2 separate regions of the Homo sapiens genome follow, and region 2 is linked to region 1. The links come from fine-mapping of genetic effects on plasma protein levels. A gene starts in region 1. The other region holds a variant in brackets. All regions are shown on one strand. Distances are between the middles of the regions.

Evidence for each region. A credible set is the group of variants that fine-mapping cannot tell apart. PIP is the chance, under the fine-mapping model, that this variant and not a neighbour inherited with it causes the effect. The UK Biobank Pharma Proteomics Project read protein levels with antibody pairs (Olink). The fine-mapping took linkage between variants from a reference panel, not from the people measured, so its PIPs are less certain.
Region 2: its variant is the best candidate, but not a certain one, in a credible set for the plasma level of the CD80 protein (UK Biobank, PIP 0.54).

Annotation. Positions count from the first base shown.
Region 1 is chr3:119,554,633-119,564,110 of GRCh38, reverse strand. CD80 (CD80 molecule) reads left to right here and starts at 4,497. Exons shown (of 7, transcript NM_005191.4): 1 at 4,497-4,671; 2 at 6,183-6,482. The coding sequence starts at 6,383. It overlaps LOC107986118 (a long non-coding RNA gene), which reads right to left and starts at 3,681. Exons shown (of 2, transcript XR_001740861.2): 1 at 3,366-3,681; 2 at 1,785-1,875. RefSeq lists enhancers at 1,153-1,742, 4,224-4,273, 5,044-5,103, 5,374-5,533, 5,895-6,189 and a silencer at 5,895-6,189.
Region 2 is chr3:119,565,866-119,578,272 of GRCh38, reverse strand. No RefSeq gene overlaps it. Among named protein-coding and RNA genes, the nearest start is that of ADPRH, 7.4 kb to the left of the region's middle. RefSeq lists an enhancer at 9,370-9,871. The variant G/T (reference allele first, on the strand shown) is at 6,433.

The DNA.
Region 1 (9,478 bases):
GGAGAAAATTTTTGCAATCTACTCATCTGACAAAGGGCTAATATCCAGAATCTACAATGAACTCAAACACATTTACAAGAAAAAACAACCCCATCAAAAAGTGGGCAAAGGATATGAACAGACACTTCTCAAAAAAGACTTTTATGCAGCCAACAGACACATGAAAAAATGCTCATCATCACTGGCCATCAGAGAAATGCAAATCAAAACCACAATAAGACACCATCTCACACCAGTTAGAATGGCGATCATTAAAAAGTCAGGAAACAACAGGTGCTGAAGACGATGTGGAGAAATAGGAACACTTTTACACGTTGGCAGGACTGTAAACTAGTTCAACCATTGTGGAAGACAGTGTGGCGATTCCTCAAGGATCTAGAACTAGAAATACCATTTGACCCAGCCATCCCATTACTGGGTATATACCCAAAGGGTTATAAATCATGCTGCTCTAAAGACACATGCACACGTATGTTTATTGTGGCACTATTCACAATAGCAAAGACTTGGAACCAACCCAAATGTCCATCAATGATAGACTGGATTAAGAAAATGTGGTACATATACACCATGGAATACTATGCAGCCAGAAAAAAGGATGAGTTCATGTCCTTTGTAGGGACATGGATGAAGCTGGAAACCATCATTCTCAGCAAACTATCACAAGGACAAAAAACCAAACACCACATGTTCTCACTCATAGGTGGGAATTGAACAATGAGAACACTTGGACACAGGAAGGGGAGCATCACACACGGGGGCCTGTCATGGGCTGGGGGGAGGGGGGAGGGATAGCATTAGGAGATATACCTAATGTAAATGACGAGTTAATGGGTGCAACACACTAACATGGAGCGTGTATACATATGTAACAAACCTGCACATTGTGCACATGTACCCTAGAACTTAAAGTAGAATAATAAACAAAAATTGATAATAAAAAAATTAATTAAAAAAAAAGAGTCACAGGCAGGAAGAGTAAGATGCCAAGTATAGGAGGAAGAGTGTGTGGTGGGTTAGTAAGAAGACGGCCCTCACTCTGAACGAGGGCTAGCTCTGAAAGTCACTTGTTTTCATTTTAAGCATTTTGGTGATTTCCATCTCAAAGAACCAGAAAGAATGTGACAGCATTTTAAGAGGAAGAGGTGAACTCTCCCACTTTGATGAGTTTGCTGCCAACTTTAGCAGGCTGTGGCACTCCTGGGGAGCACCATAGCCTTAAAGCCTAGATCAGCTGCCCTATGATGGGTGCAGGCCTTATAGACATGCCCAGATGAAGTCATATCTAAAAATGAACTTCTAAACCTCACGGGAGGGTCATCTTAGAACATGAAAAACTCCCCTGAAAATTTTTGTCAGTGCAACAGGTTTTGTTTACTTGGCAACAGTGAGCCCACTGTGGGAAAGGGGTTTTCCCAGCAGTCAGGCTAGCACCGTGGGCCCTGAGTAGGCAACCTGCAAATGACAGCACTGAGGCCACTGCCAGGAGCCAGCCCAGCCCTCCCTGTGGATGCTGAACGGAAGGGTAGGAAGGTTGAGCTCAGGCCAGCTTTATCAGCATGAGGAGGTGAAGTGGCTCCAAGGTCAAGAGCAGAAAGATGGAACCTTCATTTCCACAGAGATCATCCTGTTCAGGGGTAAAGCAAAGGGCCAGGCTTCCCCTACGGTGTCGCAACAGCCTCTGCACCAACCTCTGAGTGACAAAGCTGCATCTCCCTCTCGTCATCTCTTCCTGCTGGGTCCTCTACAGTCTGTGATTGTGTTTTCATTTCATTTATAATGTCTTTCATTGTACAAATATTTTTAATTTTTATGAATTCAAATCTGTGTATCTTTTCTTTTTTCGTGGCTTCCAAGTTTTGTGTCTTGCTCACCCTAGAATTATAAAAATATACTTTCATAAATTTATCCTTTCAATTTTTCACATAAAAATTTTTAAAAGAATTTTTATGTGAATTATTTTTAAAAGAATTTCTTTTACTTTTATTACAGTAAAGCCAAGGATGGATTTACAAAAAAATAAGTGGCACTAAAGAATTTACACTGAGGAGCAGTAATTCCTGCTTTATTCTTCTCCAACCCTGGGTCTGCTCCTCAGAACAAACTCATTTAAAGTTTTTTTGTTTTGTTTTGTTTTGTTTTTGAAACAGAATCTTGCTCTGTCACCCAGGCTGGAGTGCAATGGCACAATCTTAGCTCACTGCAACCTCCGCCTCTGAAGTTCAAGCAAGTCTCATGTCTCAGCCTTCCCAGTAGCTGGGATTACAGGTATGCACCACTATGCCCAGTTTTTTGGTTTTTTTTTTTTTTTTGGAGAGCTGGGGTTTCATCACGTTGGCCAGCTGGCCTCGAACTCCTGGCCTCAAGTGATCCGCCCACCTCAGCCTCTCAAAGTGCTGGGATTACAGGCATGAGCCACTGTGCCCAGCCTCCTTTTAAATCTTTTACTTGGTTTTGTTTTGTTTTGTTTTGTTTTCCAGTAATATAGGTATTCGGGTTCGGCTTCCTTTGCCCGTCTTCATCCATCTCACCTCCAGTGTCCAGAAATTTACCTTAGAAATCTGTGGTCCACAGGTCATGCTCCTAGACACATTGTAGGAGGAAGAGGAATTAAACACATCCCATTAGTACATAATCTTGGAAGAGAAGCCTTCTGAATTTTACAATCAGGATTGGGGAAACTCTGTAAAGTACCTTCCTGGTGTTCCTTTCTTCCAGCCTCTTTGATTAAGTCACATCAAAGCGCTAATGGCAAAGTTGTTTAATGTGTGTTTCTCCAAGGCAGGTTAGGATTTCACTGGGATTCTTAAAATTTGAGGGTGTCTGTGATCGTCAAAATTTGTATTCATGTAGTCCCTCATGAAATTTCTAAAACTCGGCTGGGTGCAGTGGCTCATGCCTGTAATCCCAGCACTTTGGGAGGCCGAGGAGGGTGGATCACAAGGTCAGGAGTTTGAGACCAGCCTGGCCAATATGGTGAAACCCCATCTCTACTAAAAATTTAAAAATTAGCCTGGCATGGTGGCACACGCCTGTAGTCCCAGCTACTCAGGAGGCTGAGGCAGAAGAATTGCTTGAACCCAGGAGGCGGAGGTTGCAGTGAGCCAAGATTGCACCACTGCACTCCAGCCTGGGCGGCAGAGAAAGACTTCATCTAAAAAAAAAAAAAGAAAATAAATTTCTAAAACTCTGTATTTCTTTGCTCTTTTAAGTTGACATCTATAACTTTCTATTACTTTAAATACCTGGAAAAAAAATCACTTCCAGTGCATTGTAATAATGTATCAAGTAGAAGTGGCTAAAATCAGTGAAAACATTTCTTTGATCTGAATAAATGTTCAAGAAAATAGAAAACATGAACTTACCTCCAATCTATGTTCCCTTTACTTGAAAATGTAATGTTGATCTACTAGAGGTAAGGCAGGAATTGTCACATCCATATTCCTTGCAACTATTCAAAATATGCATCTGAGACCAGAACAAGACACAGGTGAAGAAGGGTGCTCACTAGGCCCCTTCTGCCAATACAGAAGGAGACAGTGCAGTGGAGTCCTTTCATAGCAAGTTCTGCCTTCATGATTTCCAAAGCTTCAGTATTCCAAATCTCAGGTGAATAGGGTGGTATCCACTAAGCTCTGCCACAAACTTGTTGCTGAGATGAAGGAAGCCGCCGCTGTAGTCAGTATTTCTCACCCACACGGTTTGCTCTCTTTCTGGCTGGTGTGGGAAGGATGGCGTCTTTTTTTTTTTTTTTTTTTTGAGATGGAGTCTTGCTCTGTTACCCAAGCTGGATTGTAGTGTTGTGATCTCGGCTCACTGCAACCCATGCAAGGTGCTGTCAGGTTCCACCTGTGCAAACAAGTACACTGGTCCAGCATGGGTCAGCTGCTCACTCACAGGGGCTCCAGAATCCTACAAAGGGACACACAGGGGTGGGTGGCAACCTAGTTGGAAATGGGAGTGATGGGCATGACTAAAGTCTTCCTCATCCCACCAGAGGCGCACTCAACTGTGGCTAGGGTGACCAGAATTCACTGTCCAGCGTGGCTGGCAGGAGCCCACTCTCTGAAGATGGTGGGATTCAGAGGTGGGAGTAGAGTTGGGTGGTCCTGTGAGCTGAGCACTCTCCCAAAAGTGTCCCCTACATATGAGGTTGACAGCTTATTCCTGCAGGGACTCAGGAGTAACTCTGGGTGCTAAAACAAAACTTGAGACCAGCACAGAAACAGCCAGCCCATGAAGCTGGCCTCCCATCACACAGCAAGGCTAGCCAGATGCCCCTCACTCTTCTCGGGCACCATTCTTCTCCTCCCCTAGGCCGCCTGGTGCTCGTGGTGTTTCATGTTTGTTAGTCCATGCACGGTGGTGAGGGAGGCTGCTGTGTGATTTGCCCCAGCCACAGCCTCTACAAAAGCAACTAGAAGAAGACGGCAGCAGAGGGCGCTTCTTCAAACACCCTGTCCAACTCCTGGCACTGACAAGTACTGAGTGAACTCAAACCCTCTGTAAAGTAACAGAAGTTAGAAGGGGAAATGTCGCCTCTCTGAAGATTACCCAAAGAAAAAGTGATTTGTCATTGCTTTATAGACTGTAAGAAGAGAACATCTCAGAAGTGGAGTCTTACCCTGAAATCAAAGGATTTAAAGAAAAAGTGGAATTTTTCTTCAGCAAGTAAGTACATTTACTATTATCTTACTATGGGATAGCTTGGTAGAACTAGTTACCAGCAACCTCACTGCTTTTTAAACAAACAATACCTCTGCTACCACCTCCTGGATCCAGGCTTGCCCTCAAAGGAACCCTTAGGGTCTCATTCCCACAGGAGGCTGTGGCTTCCCGACATATTTGGAGCATCATAGTGAGAATTGTGGCCCATTATTTTAAAATATCCTAGATCCTAGCAAATATTGTTTTTGTGGGCCGTATTTGAATTTCTCAAGCCAGTAAAATTCTAGTGAAAGTGGGAAAATCGCTTGAGCTCGGGAGGTTGAGACTGTGGTGAGCTATGGTCACGCCACTGCACTCTAGCCTGTGTGACAGAGCAAGATTCTATCTTAAGAAAAACAAATTCTGGTGAATAAGTCTCTTTTAACTAATCCTGTCTAAAATGGATGATGGCTAATAAAACAATATGGCGTGGCTGGAACTCTAGCTCTAGGGTGGTCTCCAAAGAGGACACTCAAGCATTCTCTGAGCAGCACGGGGCTGTGTCCTGGTAGCAGCCTGAAGGGGTGACAGTGGAGCACAGTGTTTATTTTCATTTCTCAATTTTGACATATTTACTGGAAAAATTAATCCCTAGCCACCTCACATGACAGTACATAATTTTTTTTTTTTTTTTTTTTGAGATGGAGTCTCACTCTGTCGCCTAGGCTGGAGTGCAGTGTTGCAATCATCTTGGCTCACTGCAGCCTCCACCTCCTGGATTCAAGCAATTCTCGTGCCTCAGCCTCCCAAGTGGCTGGGATTACAGGCACCCACCACCACACCTGGCTAATTTTTGTATTTTTGGTAGAAATGGGGTTTTGCCATGTTGGCCAGGCTGGTCTGGAACTCCTGGCCTCAAGTAATCCGCCCACCTCAGCCTCCCAAAGTGCTGGGATTACAGGCGTGAGCCACCACGCCTGGCCCTGGAGTACATAATTTTGATAAGTAACGTCTGCAGTGTCTTTTTTTCCCTCCCTTTTTATGGATAGACTTTTCTGGTTATTGAGATCTCATACCCCTTTATGATATATTATTTGAGTAGAGGGTTTAAAGAATTGAGATACTTGTTTTCTTATGTTAATATGTCAAGAAAGAAGTTGTTTCATAACTTAGGTCCTGCCTTGGACAAAATACACCCTTACTGTCTGCTCTATGTTTCTTGGTATGTTCAGAAGAGGATTTGAACTTTTGCAGGTTGGCTAACAGATATGGAGGGTCCTTAGAGCTCTCCTGTTTCTAACCAAATCTTCACCCCACCTATTAAGTAGAAAGCCTTTTCATGGAAGGGCTGTGGTTGGTTCTTGGAACTGGTCCCCTCACAGAATTTCCATTCGCTTTTCCTCAGGGTCACGCCCTGCTTTAGAGGTTGCTTAGGTTAAGCTCTCCAATTAATTTTAGCAGGCAACTCGAGAGTTTTGCAACTCAAAGTAGGCACACCTTCCTTCCTGAATGACTTTTATTTGTTCCTTTTTCAGGCTGTGAAACTAAATCCACAACCTTTGGAGACCCAGGAACACCCTCCAATCTCTGTGTGTTTTGTAAACATCACTGGAGGGTCTTCTACGTGAGCAATTGGATTGTCATCAGCCCTGCCTGTTTTGCACCTGGGAAGTGCCCTGGTCTTACTTGGGTCCAAATTGTTGGCTTTCACTTTTGACCCTAAGCATCTGAAGCCATGGGCCACACACGGAGGCAGGGAACATCACCATCCAAGTGTCCATACCTCAATTTCTTTCAGCTCTTGGTGCTGGCTGGTCTTTCTCACTTCTGTTCAGGTAAGCAACTTTCAGGAACTTAACTGAGTCAACTGCTACAGGGTTAAGAGAAAGGACATGGGGTTCTCTGAGCTGCTCCCTTCTATTATCCTATAAGCTGGAAGGAACCTTCAGGGTGTTTTCAGAAGATTTTAAAGATTAGAAGACTGTGGTCCAAAGAGGTTAAAGGACCTGCCTATCATCACACAGCAAGTTAGCAACCAAGTTAACTCAAGAACCCAGGCCTTCAAGGAAGCGTGGAAGGGACAGTGTTATTTTAACAAAACCATACAGCCGATTCATAATGGTCTCTTCCATGAATATTAGATGCTCATTTACATTTTGTGATGTGCCGATACTGGCCTCGGAGTCTAGTCCCAAACTATGTTTTCATGATACAGCTCAGCGAAAGTGTCCTGCTTCTAAAATTGAACAATGGTGATCTTCTTTCCAATCTGAAGGCGGGAGAGTAGTTGAGGACAATTCCTCTTAATGACATTCATCTTCTTAACCTTCTTAAGTTCCTCTTAATACATTAATCTTATTTGTTCTGCTTTGGATGCTGAGATCTTTTTTCAACATTGGCATCTGACTTTAAGTGGTATCAGATTTAACACAAAATTATGTTTTTAGTTATTTTTAATCTGCCACATAGGTATTACATATATGTCCTGAAAGTAATAATTTGACTTCTAGAGGCTTTTGTTCCTGCTCAGGTGATCTTAAGAGTGCTGAACTTTTGGGACTGTCAAGAAGGGTGAGGCTTGTCCCTGCTGGCAGGATGGTTCTGATTTTTTTTTTTAAGTCAGAAAACAAAAGATCTGTTTTCTAGTGAGCAGCATACTTCCCAGTTTCCCAAAAACAAAGAAGTTTGGGCTCCAGCATGATTTGCCAGTCTGCAAAGACCCGACTATTAAGGGTCCTTGTCTTAAAAACTTCTCACATAAAGTACTGCCTAGAATATCAGAGGTGTGAGAGAGAGGTAGAGGGAAGAGAAGAGGAGTTGGGGGCCCACAGATTACTTGACTGCGATGGTGGTCATTTAAAATTTTCTGTCCAGAGCTATTTTACATTGTTTCAGAACCAAGAGAAACATGGCCTACATTTCACAATTTACACCTCAGGTTTTTTATATATTTGACAGTTACATTACATTTCCAACAGTTACAATTTCCTTCTGGGGAGCTGGGGAAGCATTCCCAAACTAGTCTTCTGGGGAGTACAGAGGAGTTTAAAATATATAGAAGGAAATTTGTACAGGCTTCCCAGAAATAAGGGGGGCAGGGAGGGGGAGAGACAGAAAGAGGGAGAACAATAAAAAAAGTAAAAGAGGACATAAAATAAAAATTAAAACCCAGACTTTAGAAATTGTACAAGGAAAATTAGGGTCAGAGGTAAGTGGAAAGAGATCTTTGAGCTAAAGAAAGATGTTTAGGAAAGCACCTTGTTCTCTAGCTACATCCTGGTTTTACTGCTGCTGTGACTGAGTCAATGAAGCACCTACTGTGTGCCAGGTGGGCCATAAAAGTTGAGGCTAGGATTCCTGCACTCAAAGAGGTCTGCATATGTTAGTTGCGGAAATGCAAAGCTAACCCATGTAGAACAAGCAAAGAGCAATGAAATGCTTTGCCCTGATTGTAGGAGCCCAAGATCTGGGAAAGTGGGTAACAGACTGGGCTGCAGGAAGGAGGGCAGGCTTTACAGAGGCAGATGGATGATGGAGAGAGAATTCTGGTCAGGGCAACAGCCTGGACAAAGGCACAAAGGTAAGGATGAGGCTGGCACAGGTGTTCATTCTTTTGTTTAATCATTTATTAATTCAACAAACATGAGCATCTCCTAAAACCAAGAGACTTTTCTTGGTCCTGGGGACATGGCTCTTGCATTTGTGAAATTTACTATCATTGGAAAGAGGAAAAGTAATCCAATAGCCACTCAAATGAATGTGTTAAAGTGTGGCCAACAAACAAAGCCACGTGCTTTGAAGGCAGGGCACAGGCACTGCCTGAGGAAGTGCTGTCTTCCTCTGCCAGCAAGAAGGGGCAGTGAGCTGGGAAGTAGCAGAGGAGGGACTGGCCCAGTGAGCAAGAACCGGACCCTGCAGCACTTGTGAGTTATAATCATGAATCCGCATGTTATTCAGGAAGCTGGAAGGGCTTTACCCAGGAGAGTGGCGTGGTCTACCCCAGCTCTGTTCACTCTTTACACATACCAATAGCCTGGGGGTTTTGCTAAATTGCAGTTTCTAGCACAGGGAATTTTTTAGAGAAGTGAATCTATTTTGCATAATACTGTAATGATAGATATAAGTCATTATAAATTTGCCCAAATCCATAGAATATGCAATACCAGGAGTGACCCCTATCGTGAACTCTAGATTTGGGGTGGTAATGATGTGTTAATGTAGGTTCATTGATTGTAACAAGTGTACTGCCCTGGCGCAGGATGTAGACAGTGGCGGAAGCTGTGAATATGTGGGGAGGGGGTTACTTTACATTCAATTTTTCGATGAACCTAAAGCAGCTCTAAAAAATAAAGTCTATATAGTTTTTTAAATGCTGTTTCTGCTTAGGTGGGTCTGGGATGGGGCCTGAGATTCTGCATTTCTAAGAAGCACCTAGGTGATGCTGATGCTGCTCCACCATACACTTTGAGTTTCAGTAGTAAAGGTGTAAATAACTTTAAAAGGAAAAAAGTGTTACTGAAGAACAGAGTGGCTTGTAGGGCAGCCACAGTGACTGTGCAAAACCTATTAGGAGGTTATTTCAGTAACTTACAGTAACTGATGATGTCTTTAATGAAAAGAATTGGATCAGAAGGAAGTTGATGGGTTGGAGAGTGTGTACCATGTAAAATTAGTGAGGACTGCTCAACGGGAGTGTAGGTGTGAGTGTGCATGGTCTGTGGGAGGTGAGATTCAGTGAATACAGTGGAGTAGGATTATAGAGGGCTTTATTCAGGGCAGAGATTTGCCACACTAGGCCTTCCTCTCCTGCCACACCATGGCAGAGGTGTTC
Region 2 (12,407 bases), 13 kb before region 1:
GCCTTTCCAAAGATGGAATTTTAGGAGTGCTTATGGGATAGGGGAGGAAGGTGGTCCAAGGTTCAGAGAAAGATGAGGTAAGGAAAAGTGAGGCAATCGGTAATCTGAGCAAGCATAGTCAATCTTCATGGCTGTTCATAGAACACATGTTCACAAAATCGTGACGTTAGCATGATCTGAGAGTGGAGTTTTGGGCCTTCTGATGTCAAAAGGTCACCCATTGGACACTCACGCAGGCCAAGATGAAGGGCTGGTGGCTTGAACTGGACAAGAACTGACTCTAAGTTCCTGAAAAATAACTTAAGCAATATTTTCCATGGTGTCCTATCAGAGAAGTTATCTATAAGGAGGCAAGTGGAATTTAGTTATGTATCGTCTAGCTACATGACTTTTAGCTATGCAGGTTTTAAAATCGACTAGAAGCAAGTGACCAAAAGCAAGCAAGGCAAATTAAGTGTCAGGCCTAATCAGGTCAGCCCTCAGTTTTACCCTTTCTGAAACTATAATTTCTCTAATGTTTTCAACTCAAAGTAATCAATATATTATATGGCATATTTGGGGATGGCACATCCTTCATTCTTTCAACTGTCAAAGATTTTCAGCCTCTGAGGATGCAGTCAAAGCAAGTTCTGTAGTAAGAGACATTTTGAATAATAAGCATCCCGATAAAACTCAACACAGTTTCAGCTTAAGATGTCTGCTGAGGATATTGTTCATATTATGTAGTGATCTTTCTGTGAGAATCCATGGGAAAGGGTGATTTTTTGTTTTCGTTTTTGACTTAAATGTAAAGAATAACTGGGGCTGGGCACAGTGGTTCATACCTGTAATCCCAGTACTTTGGGAGGCCAAGGGGGACAGATTGCTTGAGACCAGGAGTTCGAGACCAGCCTGGGCAACATGGTGAAACCTGTTCTCTACAAAAAATACAAAAATTATCCAGGCATGCGCCTGTGGTCTGAGCTACTCAGGAGGCTGAGGTGGGAGGACTGCTTGAGCCCAGGAAGCAGAGGTTGCAGTGAGCTGAGATTGTGCCACTGCACTCCAGCCTGGACGACAGAGCAAGACCCTGTCTCAAAACACAAACAAACAAACAAAAACAAACAGAAAAACTGGGGTTGTTAGCAATTAGTTTGCTTTGAACTTTATGGTGCCTATGAACTTTGTGACCATTAGCATAGACTCCCGACACATCCACGCTATCTGGTTTCAAACCCTTGTAACAACACTTGGGGGCCAGGCACGGTGGCTCACGCCTGTAATCCCAGCACTTTGGGAGGCCAAGGCAGGTGGATCATGAGGTCAGGAGTTCGAGACCAGCCTGACCAACATGGTGAAACCCTGTCTCTACTAAAAATAAAAAATTAGCCGGGCATGGTGGTGGGTGCCTGTAATCCCAGCTACTCGGGAGGCCAAGGCAGGAGAATTGCTTGAACCCAGGAGGCGGAGGTTGCAGTGAGCTGAGATCGTGCCACTGCACTCCAACCTGGGCGACAGAGTGAGACTCCATCTCAAAACAAAACAAACAAACAAAAAACACTAGCTTGAGTAAGTGATTTTAGACAAGTCACTTCATCTTGCTAAGCTTCACTTTCTGTTATTAAGTAGGAAAAATAATAGTACATATTTCATAAAGTTGGTTTGAAGATTGCATGAAATAATTAATTGAAAAATTTTAGCACAGTGCTTATCAATGTAGTAGTCATGCAAGAAAAAATTACTACCAGGTCAGATATCTCTCTGTATTCCCAGTTCTCATCTCCATCACACACATGAGCCATTCTACCTTCTTTTCACATTAGTTAACACCTACTGACATCCTTTCTCTTCTGTCAAAATTAGAAAATGTTTTTGGGCATCAAGGACATTGTCCTATAAACCAAAAGGATAATTTATCAGTTAGCATGTTTCCAGCTCCAAATAACGGCAAATAACCATCACTCTTCCCCACCCCCAAAACACCACATACTCACTGGGCTTAAATAATAATGGCACTTATTATCTTATGTAACAAAATGTCTAAAGGTAAGAAGTCCCAGGGTTAATTTAGCAACTGTATACTATCATCAAAGAAAGACCCTGTTCTTCTTATCTTTCTGACCTACTATCTTCAGTTATTTTTATCCCCAGACTGACGTTTTTAATTGGCACAAGATCATATTTTCCCCATTTTAATTTATTTTATCAAATGTATATAGAGGTCTTATCCTTCGGTTTGTTTTTGTTTAAACCATTTTGCTATTTTGTGTCTGCTAGCGAGCCCAAGAGGCGTTGCCTATTAACCATTTACTGTTAATTTCTTCGAAAATTTTTGTTTAGCTCTGATTATTTAACTAGGCAGTCAAGATAATGTGTATGCATAATAACACATTGCAGTTACAGTTATAGACAGTGTCCAGTGGAAAAAGAGAGTGTTTCTTCTTTCAAGATGAAGAAACTATTCTCAAAGATCCTCCAGAAGTCTAAACCAATTCCTGGCAGGCAGGCTGGATTATGATGTTTCCCTTAGATCAAGGATAGACACATCTTCCCTGAGAGGTAGAGGTAGGTTCTTTTACAAAAATCAGGGTTTGTTTGCAAAGGAAACAGTGAATGTTGTTCTGCCAAGAAGAACAAATAGTTACTTGGCATCTTACTAGGTGCTAGGCATTAGTATAGGTCCTGGAAAGACAAATATATTGCATAGTTGGTTCCTTGCTCTTAGTTTTATTGAGGAAGACACATCATAGGCATCTTCATTACTCACCAATACAGAATCAATTGCTATGCTGAGGCTGTTGCTGAGAAATAAACTTGTAGCCCTCGGACCTGATCTTAAGATATTTCAGACACTTCATCTATAAGGTCGGAACAATGACACTGTTCTTAACAAACTGGTCACTTACAAGAATGATCTTTATACATTCTTCAGACATTGAATACCTGCTGTGTAAGTATATGCTAGGCCCTGACAGCCCCTGCTCTTCTAGAGCACCCAAGTGATCTCATTTTTCGGCTGCTAACATATTTTTAAAATTACCAAAAAAGTGTTTATATGTTTTCTTAAATCACGTTATTGAGATATGACTGAGATACAAAAAGCTGTACATATTTCGGGTATACAACTTGATGAGTTTGAAGATAAGTAACCAAAAGTAGCTGCTCACATATCCTGTGTTGTCAATTCAATTCAAGAAGATTTAGAGAGCATCTGTGATGGCTAATTTTGTCAGCCTAGCTAGGCCACAGTGCCCAGATATTTGGTCAAACATTGTTCTAGATGTTTCTGTGCAGGTATTTTTTAAGATGAGATTCACATCTAAATCAGTAGCCTTTGAGTAAAGCAGATTACTCTCCCTAATGTGGATGAGCCTCATTCCAATCAGTTGAAAGCCTTAATAGAAAAAAGACTCGCCTCCCCCAAGGAAGAGAGAATTCTGCCAGACTGCCTTTAGACTCGAGCTGCAACTCTTTCCTGGGTCTTTAGCCTGCTGGCCTACCCTGTCGAACCTGCCAGCCTCCACAATTGTATAAGCCAATCCCTTAAAGTAAACTCTCTTTCTCTGCATGTGTGTGTGTGTCCATCCTATTGGTTCTGTTTCTCAGAAGAAACTTGACTAATACAGTATCTAAAATGTGCCAGCCAGTCTGGCGCGGTGGTTCACGCCTGTAATCCCAGCACTTTGGGAGGCCAAGGCGGGCGGATCACTTGAGGTCAGGAGTTCAAGACCAGCCTGGCCAACAGGGTGAAATCCCTTCTTTACTAAAAATACAAAAATTAGCTGGGCATGGTGGCGGGTGACTGTAATCCCAGCCACTTGGGAGGCTGAGGCAGGAGAATTGCTTGACCCTGGGAGGCGGAGGTTGCAGTGAGCCAAGATTGCACCATTGCACTCCTCCAGCTTGGGCAACAAGAGCAAAACTCTGACTGAAAAATAATAAAAATAAATAAATAAATAAACAAAATGTGCCAGCCAAGCACATGCTTGGCGCTTCTTGCACCTACAGAGGTAGGGCAAAAATCACACAAGGAGAGAAGACACTGTACAGTATAATGGCACGAGGCCGTGAGGAGTATGGAAGCAGAGAATGTTCAAGGTACATGGTTGGCAACTATGAGAGAGTTAATGGTATCAGCTCAGTCAGGGTGTTCAGAGACGGCATCCAGAAGATCAGCTCATCAAGGAAAACAGGCTCAGACTTCACCGCTGATTTCAACCAACCACGTGACTGCTGTCCCTTCCTTTTGCAGTTTTGACACAACTGACCATCATTCTGCCCTGATAAGAGACCACCAATCACAGATTGGTTCTGGCCAGCCTACAGAGGACCTGCAGTGAGGGTTTTTGTGTCCTCTGCTTCACCTTTTAACATCAGAGGGCCGAGAACTCCACCCTCAGATCATGCTAATGCTGCCATTTTTTGTAAAAGGGACTCTTGAAGGGGCATGACGCTCAGTTGCACATGCACATGTTTCTCCTTTCATAAATATTCATGACTCCTCCTATAGTTTATTAAATACATGTATTTTTGTAATCCTACCTACTTGGGAGGCTGAGGCACGAGAATCGCTTGAACTTGGGAGGTGGAGGTTGAAGTGAGCTGAGATTGTGCCACTGCACTCCAGCCTGGGTGACAGAGTGAGACCTTGTCTCAATAAATAAATAAATAAATATGTGTACTTGGCTGCTCTGCTCAGCATACATTCCTGTTCCCTTTGCCTTTCCCTGGAGGTGCCTCTTTTTGGCTTCTGGCTGGAAGGCTACACTTCCCAGACTGAGAATGGCCATCCTGCCGTCTGCAACCCTTTATAAAAATAAAGCTCTCTTTTCCAGATTTATAAACCTTGTGAATTTTCAGTTGACAATAAGTTTCTTTTTTTTTTTTTTTTTGAGACGGAGTCTGGCTCTGTCACTCAGGCCTGAGGGCAGTGGTGCAATCCCAGCTCACTGCAACCTCTATTTCCCAGGTTCAAGCAATTATCCTGCCTCAGCCTCCCAAGTAGCTGGGATTACAGGCGATCGCCACCACGCCCAGCTAATTTTTGTATTTTTAGTAGAGAGGCAGTTTCACCATGTTGGCCAGGCTGGTCTTGAACTCCTGACCTCAAGTGATCCACCTGTCTCAGCCTCCCAAAGTGCTGGGATTATAGGCATTAGGCACCGTGCCCAGCTGACAATAACTTTCTAGGGAGGAAGCTGAGGCCAGTGAAGACAGTTACTCAGAGTTTATATAACTCAGTTTCACACATGGAGAGAAGTGGGCCTGGAGCCCATGCCCTCTGAACTCCCAGCCAGGACTTCTTCCATTCCTTCTACTGTCACTTAGAAAAAAATTGAAATGACATGATAGACTAAACACCTATGAAAGATTTGAACCTCCTGAGTCTAATTTTTAAAATATTTGCTGGGCGCAGCTCACGCCTATAAACCCAGTACGTTGGGAGGCAGAGGTGGGAGGATCACTTGAGCCCAGGAGTTCAAGACCAGCCTGTGCAATAAAGTGAGACCCTGTCTCTACAAAATAAATAAATAAATAAAATTATCCAGGTGTGGTGGTGCACACCTGTAGTCCTAGCTACTGAGGAAGCTGGGGCAGGAGGATTGCTTGAGCCTGAGAGTTCAAGGTTACAATAAGCTAGGGTCACACAACTGCACAGTAGCCTGGGTGATAGAGTGAGAACCTGTCTCTAAATAAATAAATAAATATTCTATATCCCACTCCCAAAGAGCCTTAAGCCTCTTGTTGATGACAGTCTAAAAGTGGTATTTAAAGAAAAATCTAAGATATGCACCGTAATTCTAACAAGCAGGCAGGAATCAAATATAGCAAGAGGTAGAGATGGGAGACTATATGGAGAGGAGCAAAAGAGATAAGTGGATACAAACCGGTGTTTTAAAACCTAGGAGTGGCCAGGTGCGGTGGCTCACACCTGTAATCCCAGCACTTTGGAAGGCCGAGGCAGGCGGATCATGAGGTCAGGAGTTCAAGACCAGCCTGGCCAACATGGTGAAACCTCCTCTCTACTAAGAATACAAAATTAGCCGGGCATGGTGGTGCATGCCTGTAATCCCAGCTACTCGGGAGGCTGAGGCAGGAGAATCGCTTGAACCTGGGAGGCAGAGGTTGCAGTGAGCCAAGATCGTGCCACTACACTGTAGCCTGGACGACAGACCGAGACTCCATCTTAAAACAAAAAACAAAAAACAAAAAAAAAACCCTAGGAGCAGCTTCCACCCCTCTCTGCAGAGCAGAAAGAGACCCGAGGGAAGTCCATGTGGATGTGAATCCTGCTCCTCCCAACAATGCAGTAGCCCGCTCCTGTAGGTCAGGGCTTTCCAGCCTTTGCTCTGGAGATCCACCAGTAATTTTCAAATCTTCTTTGGTACATTTCCTGGCAGATGACCTCTGTTGCTCCCTTTCTCCTGGTTTCGCTGGGATTTCCCACAGGAA[G/T]AGAAGCTCAGCTGGCCAGCTGAGTCCTAAGTTCCGCTTCCAGGGTTTACAATGAAACAGCAATGCTCTTGCACACGGTCCCATCCTAAGGGGACTTCACTGCCTGCTAGAATCTCAGTAGGTGAAAATACAGCTTCTAGGAAACAAAAAGTGACTGCTCCCTAAACCAAAAGTTTGGGGGGCCTTACTGAAATTATCTTTCTTTCATGTTATCATTCTTTCTGCCCCACAATTCCTCCACTGGGGTCAACCTGGGCAAATGTACATGAATCTACTCTTATTTCTATTTCTAGAAGAGTCCTTGAGACAAAAGGTAAAGAAAAATCTAGTCAGGGGACATTTTGTTCCTCTTGTTTTTCCAGCAAGCTCCTTCCCCCTCTGATGAGGCAACAGTCCCTCATCCCTTGGTCTCTGGCATTCATTCCTAAAATTACTCTCTGGAGAGAACTCCTGAAGTTTAGGGTGGGGCATCTAAACAAAGGACACCAAAAGGTTTCAAATGGCAGCCAGTTTAGGCACATTTCTTAGTTGTGTCTGGGGCCATTGGAGGAGTCACGCAACCCCAGTGGCCACTGGAGAAATCAGTTCAAGGCTCAGGAGAGATTCAATCTGAGAGTGCTGTTAAGGATCTTCACTCCATAAAATCCTGTTCTTCATCATGTGGTACTTGTATAAATCAGGCCCTCAAGTGGTCAAATTCCTTCTCGTATTCAAATAATAGGTAAATATCTACATAAGGTTAACTTTTTTTGTTTGTTTGTTTGTTTGTTTTTTTTTGAGTCAGAGTCTCACTCTGTTGCCCAGGCTGGAGTGCAATTGTTCAATCTCAGCTCACTGCAACTTCCATCTCCCAGGTTCAAGCGATTCTCATGCTTCAGCCTCCGGAGTAGCTGGGATTACAGGCACCCACCACCATGCCCAGCTAATTTTTAAATTTTTAGTAGAGATGGGGTTTTGCCATGTTGGCCAGGCTGGTCTCAAACTCCTGACCTCAAGTGATCCACCCTCCTTGGCCTCCCAAAGTGCTGGGATTACAGGCGTGAGCCACTGCACCCGGCCACACGTTAAGTTTTAAATGTTGACCCTTCTAGAAAGAGTTATTGAAGGGGAACTTCCCCTTTCCATCCAAGCCTTGCAATTTCTCTTTAATTTTAGGAACAGAATCAAATTCCTTTTCCGAAATCTGGAAACCATGACCTTTGACGTTGTGGACCAACGTAATATAAAAAAAATGGCAACTGTTTGATTCACTTTTCAGAATAATACAAAAAAAGGAAGAAGTGGGGGACAGAGCTGGGGAGGAGAGAGGGAGGAGGAACAGGCTGTTTCCATGACCCTTCAGCTCTAATTCATTCACGCCATGGTGACCCACTTTGAAAGCATAGATCATGTCTGGCTTCTCCTACTGCCTAGTCCTTGGTTCCTGTTTCTCAGGGGACAGGGAAAATGAAATAGAAACTGAAAAGGGTGACTTTTGTAACTTCGTTAGTGGTTCTGGTGGACAGTGTGGCAGGGCAGGGGAGTGGCAGCCAGTGGCAGTGACATTTAACGCCTCAGGTCCTAGAATCGTGGACTGCCTGGGATTCCACCATAGTCCCTTACTCTCAGGCAGAGAAATCTCTGTTTTCCCCAAACAGGATTTGTCTCTTCTCTTCTTAAAGCATCAGGCAATAAAAATTTGCAACCTTCTTTGAAAGTCACCTTTTCCAGCTTCAACACAAAAAAAATGCTTCCTTAAACACAATCAAAATTTATCCTGCTTACATGTAGATTATTTTCTCCAGTTTGGTCGCCTACAGATGTAGAAGGCATTTATGGCCATGACTAGCTCAAAACAAAGAAACAGAAACACCTCAAAGCCACAGAGGATCATTACCAAAGGCCTCAAAATCATTTGGCCCATCTAAAACATCTTGGCTCCCCATTCCTCTGTTCTCTGAGCTGCCTGGTTTAGCATCCTTTTTGTTATTGTTTGTTACTTTCTGCCGGATCCTCTCCACATTTAGTTTGAAATTGGACGTAATATTCCAATAAGGATCTGGGTTCATGTAGAAAGAATCCAAAAAGATAATTTCTGGCCATGGTATGTCATATTGCCACTCATGTCTCGCAATATTTTGTTGGCATTTTCGCCACACTGCAGACTTAAATTCAGCTAGCTGCCCTGCTCTTTTTCTGCTACTGTTTCTTTTTCTTAGGATCGGTCCATGTTGTCCTTATCTCTCCTAGTCAAGCCATTTTGCTTCCCCAATGTTTGAACCCTTCCAGGCACATAGTAGGCACTCAATAAATTTGGGGGGGTGGGGAGGGATTGGAATGATGCCAAATGAGTGGCACAGACATAGGATCTCAGAGAAGGGAAAGAGCAGATGGAGATTTAGAAGAGTCAGGAAAGCTTCTTGGGGAAATGGCATTTGGCCTGGTCCTTTGAGGAAGAAAGATGTTTAGATGGGCAGAGAGAATGGGGAAAGGCAGCCAAGGAAGTTGGGGGACAGTGTGTCAAGAGTCACAGGCAAGGATTATGAGGCAAGGTGGCAGAATAGGAACAGCTCCAGTCTACAGCTCCCAGCGTGAGCGACACAGAAGACAGGTGATTTCTGCATTTCCAACTGAGGTACTGGGTTCATCTCACTGGGGTTTGTCGGACAGTGGGGGCAGGACAATGGGTGTAGCCCACTGAGCGAGAGCCGAAGCAGGGTGAGGCATCGCCTCACCCGAGAAGGGCAAGGGGTCAGGGAATTCCCTTTCCTAGCCAAGGGAAGTGGTGACGGACGGCACCTGGAAAATCGGGTCACTCCCAGCCTAATACTGCACTTTTCCAATGGTCTTAGCAAATGCCACACCAGGAGATTATATGCCGAGCTTGGCTCGGAGGGTCCCACGCCCACGGAGCCTTACTCATTGCTAACACAGCAGTCTGAGATCGAACTGCAAGGCAGCAGCGAGGCTGGGGTAGGGGTACCCGCCATTGCTGAGGCTTGAGTAGGTAAACAAAGCGGCCGGGAAGCTCGAACTGGGTGGAGCCCACCACAGCTCAAGGAGGCCTGCCTGCCTCTGTAGACTCCACCTCTGGGGGTAGGGCATAGCTGAACAAAAGGCAGCAGAAACCTCTGCAGACTTAAATGTCCCTGTCTGGCAGCCTTGAAGAGAGTAGTGGTTCTCCCAGCGTGGAGTTTGAGATCTGAGAATGGACAGACTGCCTCCTCAAGTGGGTCCCTGACCCCCGAGTAGCCTAACTGGGAGGCACCCTCCAGTAGGGACAGACTGACACCTCACACAGCTGGGTACCCCTCTGAGACAAAACTTCCAGAGGAACGATCAGGCAGCATCATTTGCTGTTCAGCAATATTCGCTGTTCTGCACCCTCCGCTGCTGATACCCAGGCAAACAGGGTCTAGAGTGGACCTCCAGCAAACTCCAACAGACCTGCAGCTGAGGGTCCTGACTGTTAGAAGGAAAACTAACAAACAGAAAGGACATCCACACCAAAACCCCACCATCATCAAAGGTCACCATCATCAAAGACCAAAGGTAGATAAAACCACAAAGATGGGGAAAAAACAGAGCAGAAAAGCTGAAAATTCTAGAAATCAGAGCGCCTCTCCCCCTCCAAAGGTATGCAGCTCCTTACCAGCAACAGAACAAAGCTGGATGGAGAATGACTTTGATCAGTTGAGAGAAAAAGTCTTCAGATGATCAAACTTCTCCGAGCTAAAGGAAGAAGTTTGAACCCATCTCAAAGAAGCTAAAAACCTTGAAAAAAGATTAGACAAATGGCTAACTAGAATAACCAGTGTAGAGAAGTCCTTAAATGACCTGTTGGAGCTGAAAACCGTGGTACGAGAACTACATGACGAATGCACAAGCTTCAGTAGCCGATTAGATCAACTGGAAGAAAGAGTGTCAGTGATGGAAGATGAAATGAATGAAATGAAGCAAGAAGAGAAGTTTAGAGAAAAAAGAGTAAAAAGAAATGAACAAAGCCTCCAAGAAATATGGGACTATGTGAAAAGACCAAATCTACGTCTGATTGGTGTACCTGAAAGTGATGGGGAGAATGGAACCAAGTTGGAAAACACTCTACAGGATATTATCCAGGAGAACTTCCCCAACCTAGCAAGACAGGCCAACATTCAAATTCAAGAAATACAGAGAACACTATGAAGTTACTCCTCGAGATGAGCAACTCCAAGACACATAATTGTCAGATTCACCAAAGTTGAAATGAAGGAAAAACTGTTAAGGGCAGCCAGAGAGAAAGGTCGGGTTTTCCACAAAGGGAAGCCCACCAGACTAATAGCGGATCTCTCAGCAGAAACTCTATAAGCCAGAAGAGAGTGGGGGGCCAACATTCAACATTCTTAAAGAAAAGAATTTTCAACCCAGAATTTCATATCCAGCCAAACTAAGCTTCATAAGTGAAGGACAAATAAAATCCGTTACAGACAAGCAAATGCTGAGAGATTTTGTCACCACCAGGCCTGCCCTAAAAGAGCTCCTGAAGGAAGCACTAAACATGGAAAGGAAAAACCAGTACCAGCCACTGCAAAAACATGCCAAATTGTAAAGACCATTGATGGTAGGAAGAAACTGCATCAACTGACGAGCAAAATAACCAGCTAACATCGTAATGACAGGATCAAATTCACACACAAAAATATTAACCTTAAATGTAAATGGGCTAAATGCTCCAATTAAAAGACACAGACGGGCAAATTGGATAGAGTCAAGACCCATCAGTGTGCTGTATTCAGGAGACCCATCTCACATGCAGAGACACACATAAGCTCAAAATAAAGGGATGGAGGAAGATCTACCAAGCAAATGGAAAACAAAAAAAGGCAGGGGTTGCAATCCTAGTCTCTGATAAAAAAGACTTTAAACCAACAAAGATCAAAAGAGACAAAGAAGGTCATTACATAATGGTAAAGGGCTCAATTCAACAAGAAGAGCTAACTATCCTAAATATATATGCACCCAATACAGGAGCACCCAGATTCATAAAGCAAGTCCTTAGAGACCTACAAAGAGACTTAGACTCCCCCACAATAATAATGGGAGACTGTAACACCCCACTGTCAACATTAGACAGATCAACGAGACAGAAAGTTAACAAGGATATCCAGGAATTGAACTCAGCTCTGCACCAAGCAGACCTAATAGACATCTACAGAACTCTCCACCCCAAATCAACAGAATATACATTCTTCTTAGCACCACATAGCACTTATTCCAAAATTAACCACATAGTTGGAAGTAAAGCACTCCTCAGCAAATGTAAAAGAACAGAAATTATAACGAACTGTCTCTCAGACCACAGTGCAATCAAACTAGAACTCAGGATTAAGAAACTCACTCAAAACCACTCAACTACATGGAAACTGAAACACCTGCTCCTGAGTGACTACTGGGTACATAACAAAATGAAGGCAGAAATAAAGATATTCTTTGAAACCAATGAGAACAAAGACACAACATACCAGAATCTCTGGGAAACATTTAAAGCAGTGTGTAGAGGGAAATTTATAGCACTAAATGCCCACAAGAGAAAGTAGGAAAGATCTAAAATTGACACCCTAACATCACCATTAAAAGAACTAGAGAAGCAAGAGCAAACACATTCAAAAGCTAGCAGAAGGCAAGAAATAACTAAGATCAGAGAAGAACTGAAGGAGATAGAGACACAAAAACCCTCAAAAAATCAATGAATCCAGGAGCTGGTTTTTTGAAAAGATCAACAAAATTGATAGACCACTAGCAAGACTAATAAAGAAGAAAAGAGAGAAGAATCATATAGACACAATATCAAATGATAAAGGGGATATCACCACCGATCCCACAGAAATACAAACTACCATCAGAGAATACTATAAACACCTCTATGCAAGTAAACTAGAAAATCTAGAAGAAATGGATAAATTCCTGGACACATACACCCTCCCAAGACTAAACCAGGAAGAAGTTAAATCCCTAAA